Homo sapiens: one gene and its partners. Each later gene encodes a partner of the first gene's protein in a complex. Each region holds a gene or a part of one and is shown in the gene's direction. Other genes may lie near its edges. The genes, in order: DPF3, SMARCB1 and SMARCA2.

Region 1 (3,653 bases):
TTACATAGCAGCTAGTAAGATCTTTCTAAACTGCAATCTGATCGTATCACTCCCCTGTTGATAACTCTTCAAAAGCTTTCCTGTTGCCCCACTGACGGGTTTTAGCATGACAAAAAAAGCCCTCATTGCTTGCTCCCTGGGGATTCCAACAGCTATATCTAATTTTATCCAGGATTTCTGCACTGGTGGGGGCCAAGGTGAGATTTGATATAAAACTTTATTTTGAAAAAGGCTCATAAGCCATCCAAACAGTTTCAACAATCACCAAATAGAACAGAGCTGAAACTAGGGGGTGGGGCCAGATCACAAACAGTTTCCGAGCAGCTCCTGTATGCAAGGAAGTCTCTACAGTGGATGCAGTGATGAGGAAAACAAGATTTTGCCCCCAAGGGCTTTATAGTCCATAAAGGGGATAAAGGGTGGAAAAAAGAGGCATGTTCCAAATGAACTATTCAAGAAAACAAACATGTAGATGTCTTTTTTTTTTTTTTTTTGAGACAGAGTCTCACTCAGTTGCCCAGGCTGGAGTGCAGTGGTGCGATCTTGGCTCACTGCAACCTCCACCTCCCGGGTTCAAGAGATTCTCCTGCCTCAGCCTCCTGAGTAGCTGGGATTACAGGTGCACGCCACCATGCCTGGCTAATTTTTGTATTGTTAGTAGAGATGGGGTTTCACCATGTTGGCCAAGCTGGTCTCGAACTCCAGACCTCAAGTGAACCACGCGCCTTGGCCTCCCTAAGTGCTGGGATTACAGGCATGCGCCACAGCGCCCAGCCAAGAAAACAAACGTGATTAGATGTCTACCACATGCCAGGCATGTAACGTAAAGGAAAATGCATTTAAATGTCACAGAAAGGGAAAGTACCACAGGGCTGCACGAGGGAAGAGACAACTTCCAGTTGAGGTAGATTAGCAAAGACTTTGTGGAAAAGAAGTGCTTGAAGAAGACGTACTTGAAGGGCAGGCAGGGAATGGACATGCAGAGAAAGGGTCAGGGCCTGGGAGAGCCTCCAGGCAGAAGTAGCCATAGGTGCAAAGATATGGCCTGTGTCCTTTGAAGTTAACCACAACCCTGGGGTGCCCTGCTCTCACCCGGGCTCCAGCCTCCAGACAGTGAGGAAGCTTCTGGAAGCCGAGGGATGGCGCTACTTGCATTTTTCTACATTCTAATGAAACCCTGAAGAGGTTCTGAGGTTCATCCCAGTACAGCTGTTGGCCATTTCACAGATGGAGAGAGTGGAGTCCAGAAGAATTCAATTAAGATCTTCAAATATATAAAGTCATGGAGAATAGAGACATTTTCTGCCCTTTGGAAGCAGAGCTATTGGCTTTGGAAGTTCAGAAGAATAAGGGATCCCTTTAAATTTGGATGTGAGGTGTTAGTCACAGAAGGCGTCTTGGAGGAGGTACGAGTTGAGCAGAACCCTAAAATGGGGGTAGGATTTATATAGGCTGGGAGGTAGAGGGGGAAACTCCAGTTGTGGGAAAAGCACAGGCGTGTTCAGGGGACAGTGAGGACTCCAAGTGGGGCCTGGAAAGGGGATCCAGTGAGACCGACGTGGAAATAAGGCTGATGGGTAAGCGGGGGCCAGACATTGGCCCCGAATAATGGAATCTCTCCTCCTCTGTGCTTACTCTGTGTTCCACCAGGACCAGCTACTCTTCTGCGATGACTGTGACCGAGGCTATCACATGTACTGTTTAAATCCCCCGGTGGCTGAGCCCCCAGAAGGTAATGATGATGAAGTCAACAATAAGAACAGCAACAGATACTACTACTACTAGCACTTACTGAGCTCTCACTATGGTACAGGCCTTATGCTAATGGGTTTACATGTTCATGTCTTGTCTCATTTAATCATCACAACCCCACAAGGTAGGTACGACGACTGCCATTTTACAGATGAGGAAACTGAGGCACAGTCCAAGCAGCTGAAATTTCAACTTGAGGGCCAAGGAAGTTTTTCCCAGACATGCAGTGGAGATGACCGGGAGGTGTGAGCTTCCAGGAGAACTGGCGCAGGCCCGGCGACACTAGTTTGGAGGCATGACGCTAGTAGTGAGGGTCTTGATAAGAGTTGAGCCCATCTCCTCTGAGCACCTGCTTTCTGCTGAGCCACAGACTCTGGCACGTTTTCAGGCCTGGGACTTGGTTTCTGCATTGCCAAAGTTCAAAGGAAACAGGATTTACAAGAAGTTAGGGCCAGTGGGGTGGGGCTCCAGAGTTAGCAGAGGGGCTGCTACTAAAGCCGTCTCATTTCTTGCAGGAAGCTGGAGCTGCCACTTATGCTGGGAACTGCTCAAAGAGAAAGCCTCAGCCTTTGGCTGCCAGGCCTAGGGCCCCAGGTCACAGAATGTGACTCGCTGCTGGAGATCCTAAAGCAGAGCCCAGTTCAAACCAGAACGCGCCCTCCTCCCACATATCCAGCCAGACCAACTGCAAGGAAAAGAAATAGTCCCAGAGGGGCAGGGACACATGGAACGAAGAGGGTGAGGCATCTCCTGACCTCCCCCGATATGTACGGAACTTCAGCCAGCACCTCCTTGTCTCTACCGGAAGGAAGTTGCACTTTGGGAGAACACCTCCGGCCCCAGCCCTGTGGAACCCCTCTCACTTTTACCCTAGCACCGAGGCCCTCTCATTGGTTCCCATTTTAAGGGAAGCCATTTCCTGACCACTCATCCATTACTTGTGTGTAGTGTGGTGTTTTTTTATCTATTGTGTTCCAAGAAATCTTGGCACAGCCCCCGTGCCCCCAGCTTAGGGTCTGCATCCTGAAATTCTCACCTGAGGAACAAAGGGCTGTGGAGAAGTTGTCGTTTATGGCAAGCCTCACTGGAAACTTCTAGACTTGGGGTCTTGAAACCCTTTCTTGTTCCTTGGTGTCTGTGGAGACAAAGAGTTGCCTTCTAGAACCCCAGCAGTGGCATCCACAGCCAGCCTGGTCTTGAGCCACTGCTTAAAGTTACTAGATGGGGGCGGGGAGGGAGGGAGACGCGCAGAGACATGGGAGGAAACATTGTGGAAATGGTGCCAAGGCCCCGCCATAGCCAGTCAGTACTTGTTATCCATCGGGAGAGACTTTGCAAGAGGCCAGGCTGGTTCCTTGACCTTCAGAGCTGGGGCATCCTTTAGGTGAGACCAGTCATGGCCTATGGACAGAGGAAGACGGTCAAGCCTCTGCCTCTCAGCCCACCTGGTTCTGGAGACCTGGTTCAGCTTCTCCTGGTGGGACTGAAGAACCAGGAAGGGGAGCGAAGGCTGCCCAATCATGTGTCCGAATGCTGGATACAGGGGGCTGCAGCTTTGAGAAACCTTCAGTATTGATGCGACGCTCTGAATTCCTTTTTCCAAGTAATTTCTTCCTTCCACGTAGTGTTTGTTCGCTATTGTCTACTGAGACCTGACTGGGAATTTTAGGATGGGGGAGAGAAGATTGTTATCTAAACAAATAATTAGGGTGACATGGTCATTATTCACGACCAGGGTGGCCACATTTTAGAACTCTCAGTGCGGGGGCTGCTCTTGTCTCCTAAGCTCCCCAAACATGCAGGACTCTTGTTTTCAAAAAAAAATGTGTCTAGAAGAAAGAGGTGGGGAGGCTGAGCTTCCGAGAACTCTGTGTGTTGGAAGATAGCCCCGAGGGCTGGAG
Region 2 (3,653 bases), on another chromosome or scaffold:
CTACCCAGCAGGACTTGTAAGTAAAGCACTCAGTCCAGATTGCCCTTTTGGAAGAGGCCAGCATTCAGCAGTAGTAAGTTTGACACCTTGCTTTTCCCACCTCCCGCATGCGAGGACCTTGATGTGCTGCATCCACTTGGCTGGCTGCTGTGTGCCACCGCCACCAGCAGAGTGACCCAGTGATGTTTGTCTGTTACAGATCACGGATACACGACTCTAGCCACCAGTGTGACCCTGTTAAAAGCCTCGGAAGTGGAAGAGATTCTGGATGGCAACGATGAGAAGTACAAGGCTGTGTCCATCAGCACAGAGCCCCCCACCTACCTCAGGTAATGCGTTCCTGGCCAGGGCATCTCTGGGGACACCTGTGGGGTCTTTTCTGAGACTCAAGAACTGGTTGGGTTGAAGTTAAATTGAAACACTTTTTTTTTTTTTTTTTGAGATGGAATCTTGTTCTTGTCGCCCAGGCTGGAGTGCAGTGGCACGATCTTGGCTCACTGCAACCTCTGCCTCCCAGGTTCAAGCGATTCTCCTGCCTCAACCTCCCAAGTAGCTGGGATTACAGGTGCCTGCCACTATACCTGGCTAGTTTTTTTTTCTTTGAGACAGAGTTTCACTCTTGTTGCCCAGGATGGAGTGCAATGGCGTGATCTCAGCTCACTGCAACTTCTGCCTACTGGGTTCAAGTGATTCTCCTGCCTCAGCCTCCCAGATAGCTGGGATTACAGGCATGCGCCACCACGCCCAGCTAATTTTGTATTTTTGGTAGAGACGAGTCTCTCCATGTTGGTCAGGCTGGTCTCGAAACCCCACCTCAGGTGATCCGCCCGCCTTGGCATCCCAGAGTGCTGGGATTACAGGCGTGAGCCACCGCGCCCGGTCCTGATTTTTGTATTGAAACACTTTTTAACAGTTCCCTCTGTTTTTATACATTTTCTTAGCCAGGTTTCTAAGTTTCTTCTATATCATTGGAATTTCTAAGAAACGTAAGCCAAGTCCTGGATTCCGGAGAACAGTTACAAATGCTTGGAAAGTGGGACTCGTGGGGCACAGTGGCTTATGTTTGTAATCCCAGCGCTTTGGGAGGCCGAGGCATTGCTTGAGGCCAGGAGTTTAAGACCAGCCTGGGGCAACACAGCAAGACCTCATTTCTTAAAAAAACATGTAAGTGGGACCAATTTGTCAGAAAAATCAGTGGCTCACATAAACTCACAAAAGAAACAACAATAGATTTGAATGTATAAAAACTTAGAACCTGGCTGGGCACGGTGGCTCACACCTGTAATCCCAGCAGTTTGGGAGGCCGAGGTGGGCAGATCACCTGAGGTCAGGAGTTAGAGAGCAGCCTCATCCACATGGAGAAACCCCATCTCTACTAAAAATACAAAATTAGCCAGGTGTGGTGGCACATGCCTGTAATCCCAGCTACTCGGGAGCCTGAGGCAGGAGAATTGCTTGAACCCGGGAGGTGGAGATTGCAGTGAGCTGAGGTTGCACCTTTGCACTCCAGACTGGGCAACAAGAGTGAAACTCCACCTCAAAAAAAACAAAAACAAAACAAAACTTAGAACCTTTAGAAGAGTATTTATAGTAACAATTAAAAAACCAAGTAATTGGGAAGTTACGATGTTGTATCTAGAATCTATACATCTAGATTTATACAACAAACTTGGATACCCCAACAAATAGGTAAAAGATGGTCCATACCTTGAAGTACAAGGGAGTAAACAAACATGGAAAGAATTTGCCCTCATGTGTAATTTCAAAAATTCCAAGCATAAGACTGGGCATGGTAGCTTATGCCTGTAATCTCAGCACTTTGGGAAGTCAAGGCAGGAGGATCGCTTGAGCCCACGATTTGACTGTGTTGCCCAGGAGACCAGCCTGAGCAACATAGTGAGACGTTATCTCTACTGAAAGTTAAAAAAATTAGCTGAGTGTGGTGATCACACCACTGTCCTCTAGCCTAGGTAACAGAACGACACTCTTTGTCTCTTAAAAAAAATAAAAAACAGGCCGGGCACGGTGGCTCACGCCTGTAATCCCAGCACTTTGGGAGGCCGAGGCGGGCGGATCACCTGAGGTCAGGAGTTCGAGACCAGCCTGACCAACATGGTGAAGCCTCATCTCTGCTAAACGTACAAAGTTAGCCTCGCATGGTGGTGCATGCCTGTAATCCCAGCTACTCAGGAAGGCTGAGGCAGGAGAATCACTTGGACCCGGGAGGCGGAGGTTGCGGTGAGCCGAGGTTGCGCCATTGCTCTCCAGCCTGGGCAACGAGAGTGAAACTCCATCTCAAAATAATAAAATAAAATAAAAAATAAATAAATAAAAAATAAAAATAAAAATTCCAAGCATAAAACAAAAAACTGGCAACATAAGGAATTGGGGAAGGTGTGATAGAACTGCACTCATGTGTGCTGGAGGTGCTTTTTTTTTTTTTTTTTGAGATGGAGTTTTCACTCTTGTTGCCCAGGCTGGAGTACGGTGGCATGATGTCGGCTCACTGCAACCTCCGCCTCCTGGGTTCAAGCGATTCTCTTGCCTCAGCCTCTGGAGTAGCTGGGATTACTGGAATGCACCACTATGCCTGGCTAATTTTTTTGTATTTTTATTAGAGACGGGGTTTCACCATTGTGCCCAGGCTGGTCTCGAACTCCTGACCTCAGGTAATCCTCCCGCCTCGGCCTCCCAAAGTGGTGGGATTACAGGTGTGAGCCACTGTGCCCAGCCGGGAGTGCCCTTTCTGTAAAGCATCCTGACATCAAACTTTTTTGTTCTCTGGCCCATTAATACCGCCCCTGGGAATTTGTCCCAAAGAAACATTTTCAAAGAACAAAATGAATCAGTAAACCCACTATATGTACAGAGATTCTCTGTAGCATTGTGAATAATACTGGAGAATATGGAGTCGCTTAAGTATCCAGCCTTTAAGGAAAGGCTAGGTTAGTGACGGGTCAGCCACTTGAATGGACAAAGGTGTGACCCATACATGGTATAATTAAGTAGATTCTGCAGTGACCCGAGACGGGTCCTGTGGGTGAGACGTGCAGAATACAAGATTGTACCCATCTACCTTGTGCATTCAGCTCTCAACAAAGTATGCATTTCTCTGCACAAAGCCCAAGGAGCATTAAGAAAAAGGATTATTGTTCAGAGTGATGTGGTTATGGAAAATCTTTTTTATGATTCCCCTGAAAGGTGGCACGCCTCCAGGCTGGCCAGTGTTACAGACGTGTGCTTTGCAGATTCTTTTTCCCCCAAGGGATGTGGTAAGAACATAAGGATGGCTTGGCCTTCCCAGGGAAGTTGCAGAAGGAAATTGTGTACATATGGAGGGCACTTTAATTCTGCACATGTCAGCTGGGAATCTTTTATGGGGCGATAAAACAGTTTCTTGGTGATCATGTCGTGAGGAACAGCTGCAGGAGTGGAATCCCGTTGCCCTGGAGGTCAAGTCTTTAGGGGTGGGGGCTGGCAGAGGTTTGAGGGAAGTGGCTTTGGCTGGCTCCACACTACTCAGTCAGCCCAATAAGGGGACTTATGGCACCCTCCCCATCCTGTCATCGGACAATTTGAGCAGAGGCTGGGTGCCCTCTCTCAGGGATGCTGGGATTGCAATGGAAGGAAGGTTGTTTTTCTTTTTTTTTTTT
Region 3 (3,653 bases), on another chromosome or scaffold:
CAGCTCTCATCTCTTCTGTTAGCTTATGTTTCTGTGGGAGATTTTAGTTTTGGAAATATTTTGTGGGTCCCTCTACTTCACAAAAGAAGTCTGAAACAAACACTCTCATCTCCTTCTGGAGCTAGGATTCCCTCTATGACAACATCTATTTCTAGATGCCTTGAGACCCACCAAACATGGTAGTCTAGCAAAGCTAGCTTGAATGAGAGACCCACATTTTCAGTGCCTTCATCATCAAATACCAAAAATGGTATTCTGTGGATACCTATCCCAAATAGCTACCATGGAGCAGATTGTCTTTGTTCTTTGGGATATGTACCTATATTTGTGATATTGTACCTTGAACTCTTCCAAGTGTTTCCATTGGTATCCCCAGAATAGTCCTGTGAAGGTGGAAATGGGTGCAGTCTTTCTGAAGGCTAATCTGACAGAGCACTGTTAGAAATTTACCATATGGACATGTCCACCATACCTCCCTCAAATTCTACCAAGATACATTGAAATAGGTTCACAGCAGCTTTGTTTATACTAGCAAAAAAAGCAGCAAACTTCAGCCCTCATCATATGAGACTGATTAAATAAATTATAGTATACCATACGATGGAAAATTTTCAGGTATTTAAAAGAATTAGGCAGGTATGTATGAGGCTTTACCTATAAATATCCCACATATGTGAGTAAACAGCCAAGTGGAGAATATGGACATGTATAAAGATCCCTTTGGGATAACTACATAAAGAATTCAAGTATGTACGTGTGTATATATACTTACTTGAATTCTTTATATTCTATAGAGAGACTTTTATAGAATATGTAGAATCACACACACACACATACACACAGAGAGAGAGAAATGGATGTACTTGCAGGTATGGACATAAACATTTTTTTTCCTGGAAATAATTAGTTATAGGGAAAGAGACTAGGAATGGGGGAAAGGAAGCATTCAAAAGTGTTTTCTTTTTACTTTCCATTTTGTACCTTTATGTTAAAAATATGATTGAACTATTTGAATTTTCTTTTTAAGTCAATGGAGTTATCTACATGGTAAAATTATTGGCCTTTAAACTCTTTACATTTATTTATATTTTTAATGTAAAAGTTCTATTAAATGATTGCCCAACACCTCCACAAGTAGAAAACACTTCCCCTCATTATCCTTGGTCAGCCATTGGGAGACAGGTGAAGGATCCAGCCCCACTGTCCTCCATGAGACCTCGGTCCCTCTTGTTGCCTGTTTAGCGTGACTACATCATTTATCTTCCAAAAGAAGACAGGTTGGCAAGTGAAAGGGGTCGCTGACTAGACAGAACCACACAGAACAGGCATAAACCGGGAATGTTCTGGGCACTCTGGGATGTTTGTGTTGTCTGTAGGTTGGTGATAGTCTTACCACCTATACAAAGATCTCCTTGTGATTACTCACTGGTGTCTATTTCATTTGCTTTGGTTTTAGCAAAATCAGTCAAGGTGAAAATTAAGCTCAATAAAAAAGATGACAAAGGCCGGGACAAAGGGAAAGGCAAGAAAAGGCCAAATCGAGGAAAAGCCAAACCTGTAGTGAGCGATTTTGACAGCGATGAGGAGCAGGATGAACGTGTAAGTGTAGCCGACTGGGACTGAAGGCGGAGACGCCCTCTCCCCTGCTTGCTGGCCTCTTGCATTTCCATGCCCCTTCAGCCTTTTCGCTTTATTACCCAGGACTGGAAATGTCAGGATTTAGTGAGATTTCATTATTGAGGGATGTGAACGGAGCTGTATGATTTAGAACAAAGGATTGGGGGCTTTGTTTATTGCCTTTTTAATAGTCTTCAAAAATGAAAAACTACCAAATCAAGCTTCCCTTTCCCCCTTTTTAATCTTCCCACATGCTTTCTTATAAATATGGTTTTCCCCGTAGCCAGTTAATATTTTACATGCATCACAGCCAGCATGGTGCCTGGTACATAACAGTAGATTAGATGGAAGAATGAGAAAAACTGTTATGACGTCAGAGTTATTGGCTCGAGTTGCTACTTAAGGGACCATGTAAAAACTCAAAGGACTTTTTAAGTACCTAGGGGTGTTATTTTTCATATTTGAAAAATTCAGTGAGCATCTATTGAGCCAGGCCTTGTAATAGGTACCTCCCTGTGTGGTAGCATATTAAATACTGATGTCGGCATCGTGAGATAGATGTCACTCTCAAATAACATGTTATGGAAATGGTTAGGTTATGGGTGTTTTGCTACAGATCACGTCGCAGAGGTGGAATTCGGACCCGAGTAGCATAACTCAGTCTAGTGTGCTATGTCTGACTGGGCAGCAAGGTAGAAGAGTGGGCAGAAGCTCCTAATACCTTGCCTTTTGAAATACCCTTCATTTCATCCATTCACTTTCCAGAGGATGGTTTCCTGGCACCCACATTATTTTCTTTCTGGAAAGATAAATTTCCCTTTTCCTAGTTTGATTTTCCTTCAACACATTACCATTTTGGTAAAATTTCAGAATTATGATCTCACCCCAGCCTTAACCCTTGATGCAAGCATTTTCAAATACATTTTTCTTTAGGAGATGTCAAATGCAGGGTATTTTTTTTTCTCCCATGAATTTTCTAAAACCTGGGGCTGAAAAAGAGAAAATATTAGCCATAAACCTTTCAAGCCAAAGTGAAAGGGCACAAACAATAGCTTAGAGGGTGGGCTTTGCTTTGGGGTTTTTCAGTAAGAAAAACTTCTCAGCTTAGAGACTGTCGATGCCTCTTTAATGTGTTTCTGTCCTCCCACGGAAAGAGATTTGGCGAGTTGTTTCCAAAATGTCATTTTTTCCTACTGGCCTCTTGATGGTTTGTTGTTATATCTTCTTTTTCTTGCATGTGATGTTACTTCATTTTATCTTCTTATTTTTACTTTTAGGAACAGTCAGAAGGAAGTGGGACGGATGATGAGTGATCAGTATGGACCTTTTTCCTTGGTAGAACTGAATTCCTTCCTCCCCTGTCTCATTTCTACCCAGTGAGTTCATTTGTCATATAGGCACTGGGTTGTTTCTATATCATCATCGTCTATAAACTAGCTTTAGGATAGTGCCAGACAAACATATGATATCATGGTGTAAAAAACACACACATACACAAATATTTGTAACATATTGTGACCAAATGGGCCTCAAAGATTCAGATTGAAACAAACAAAAAGCTTTTGATGGAAAATATGTGGGTGGATAGTATATTTCTATGGGTGGGTCTAATTTGGTAACGGTTTGATTGTGCCTGGTTTTATCACCTGTTCAGATGAGAAGATTTTTGTCTTTTGTAGCACTGATAACCAGGAGAAGCCATTAAAAGCCACTGGTTATTTTATTTTTCATCAGGCAATTTTCGAGGTTTTTATTTGTTCGGTATTGTTTTTTTACACTGTGGTACATATAAGCAACTTTAATAGGTGATAAATGTACAGTAGTTAGATTTCACCTGCATATACATTTTTCCATTTTATGCTCTATGATCTGAACAAAAGCTTTTTGAATTGTATAAGATTTATGTCTACTGTAAACATTGCTTAATTTTTTTGCTCTTGATTTAAAAAAAAGTTTTGTTGAAAGCGCTATTGAATATTGCAATCTATATAGTGTATTGGATGGCTTCTTTTGTCACCCTGATCTCCTATGTTACC

The links.
Region 2: DPF3 (region 1) and SMARCB1 share a complex: the UniProt entries of both Homo sapiens proteins name them as parts of the BAF complex.
Region 3: DPF3 (region 1) and SMARCA2 share a complex: the UniProt entries of both Homo sapiens proteins name them as parts of the BAF complex.

What each region holds. Positions count from the first base shown.
Region 1 is NC_000014.9:72,617,982-72,621,634, reverse strand, and holds part of DPF3 (zinc finger protein DPF3), read left to right. Parts: intron 1-1,650; coding exon 1,651-1,732; intron 1,733-2,267; coding exon 2,268-2,338; 3' UTR 2,339-3,653. UniProt on the Homo sapiens protein: Belongs to the neuron-specific chromatin remodeling complex (nBAF complex).
Region 2 is NC_000022.11:23,793,360-23,797,012, forward strand, and holds part of SMARCB1 (SWI/SNF-related matrix-associated actin-dependent regulator of chromatin subfamily B member 1), read left to right. Parts: intron 1-199; coding exon 200-329; intron 330-3,653.
Region 3 is NC_000009.12:2,189,810-2,193,462, forward strand, and holds part of SMARCA2 (SWI/SNF-related matrix-associated actin-dependent regulator of chromatin subfamily A member 2), read left to right. Parts: intron 1-1,456; coding exon 1,457-1,599; intron 1,600-2,894; coding exon 2,895-2,930; 3' UTR 2,931-3,653. UniProt on the Homo sapiens protein: ATPase involved in transcriptional activation and repression of select genes by chromatin remodeling (alteration of DNA-nucleosome topology).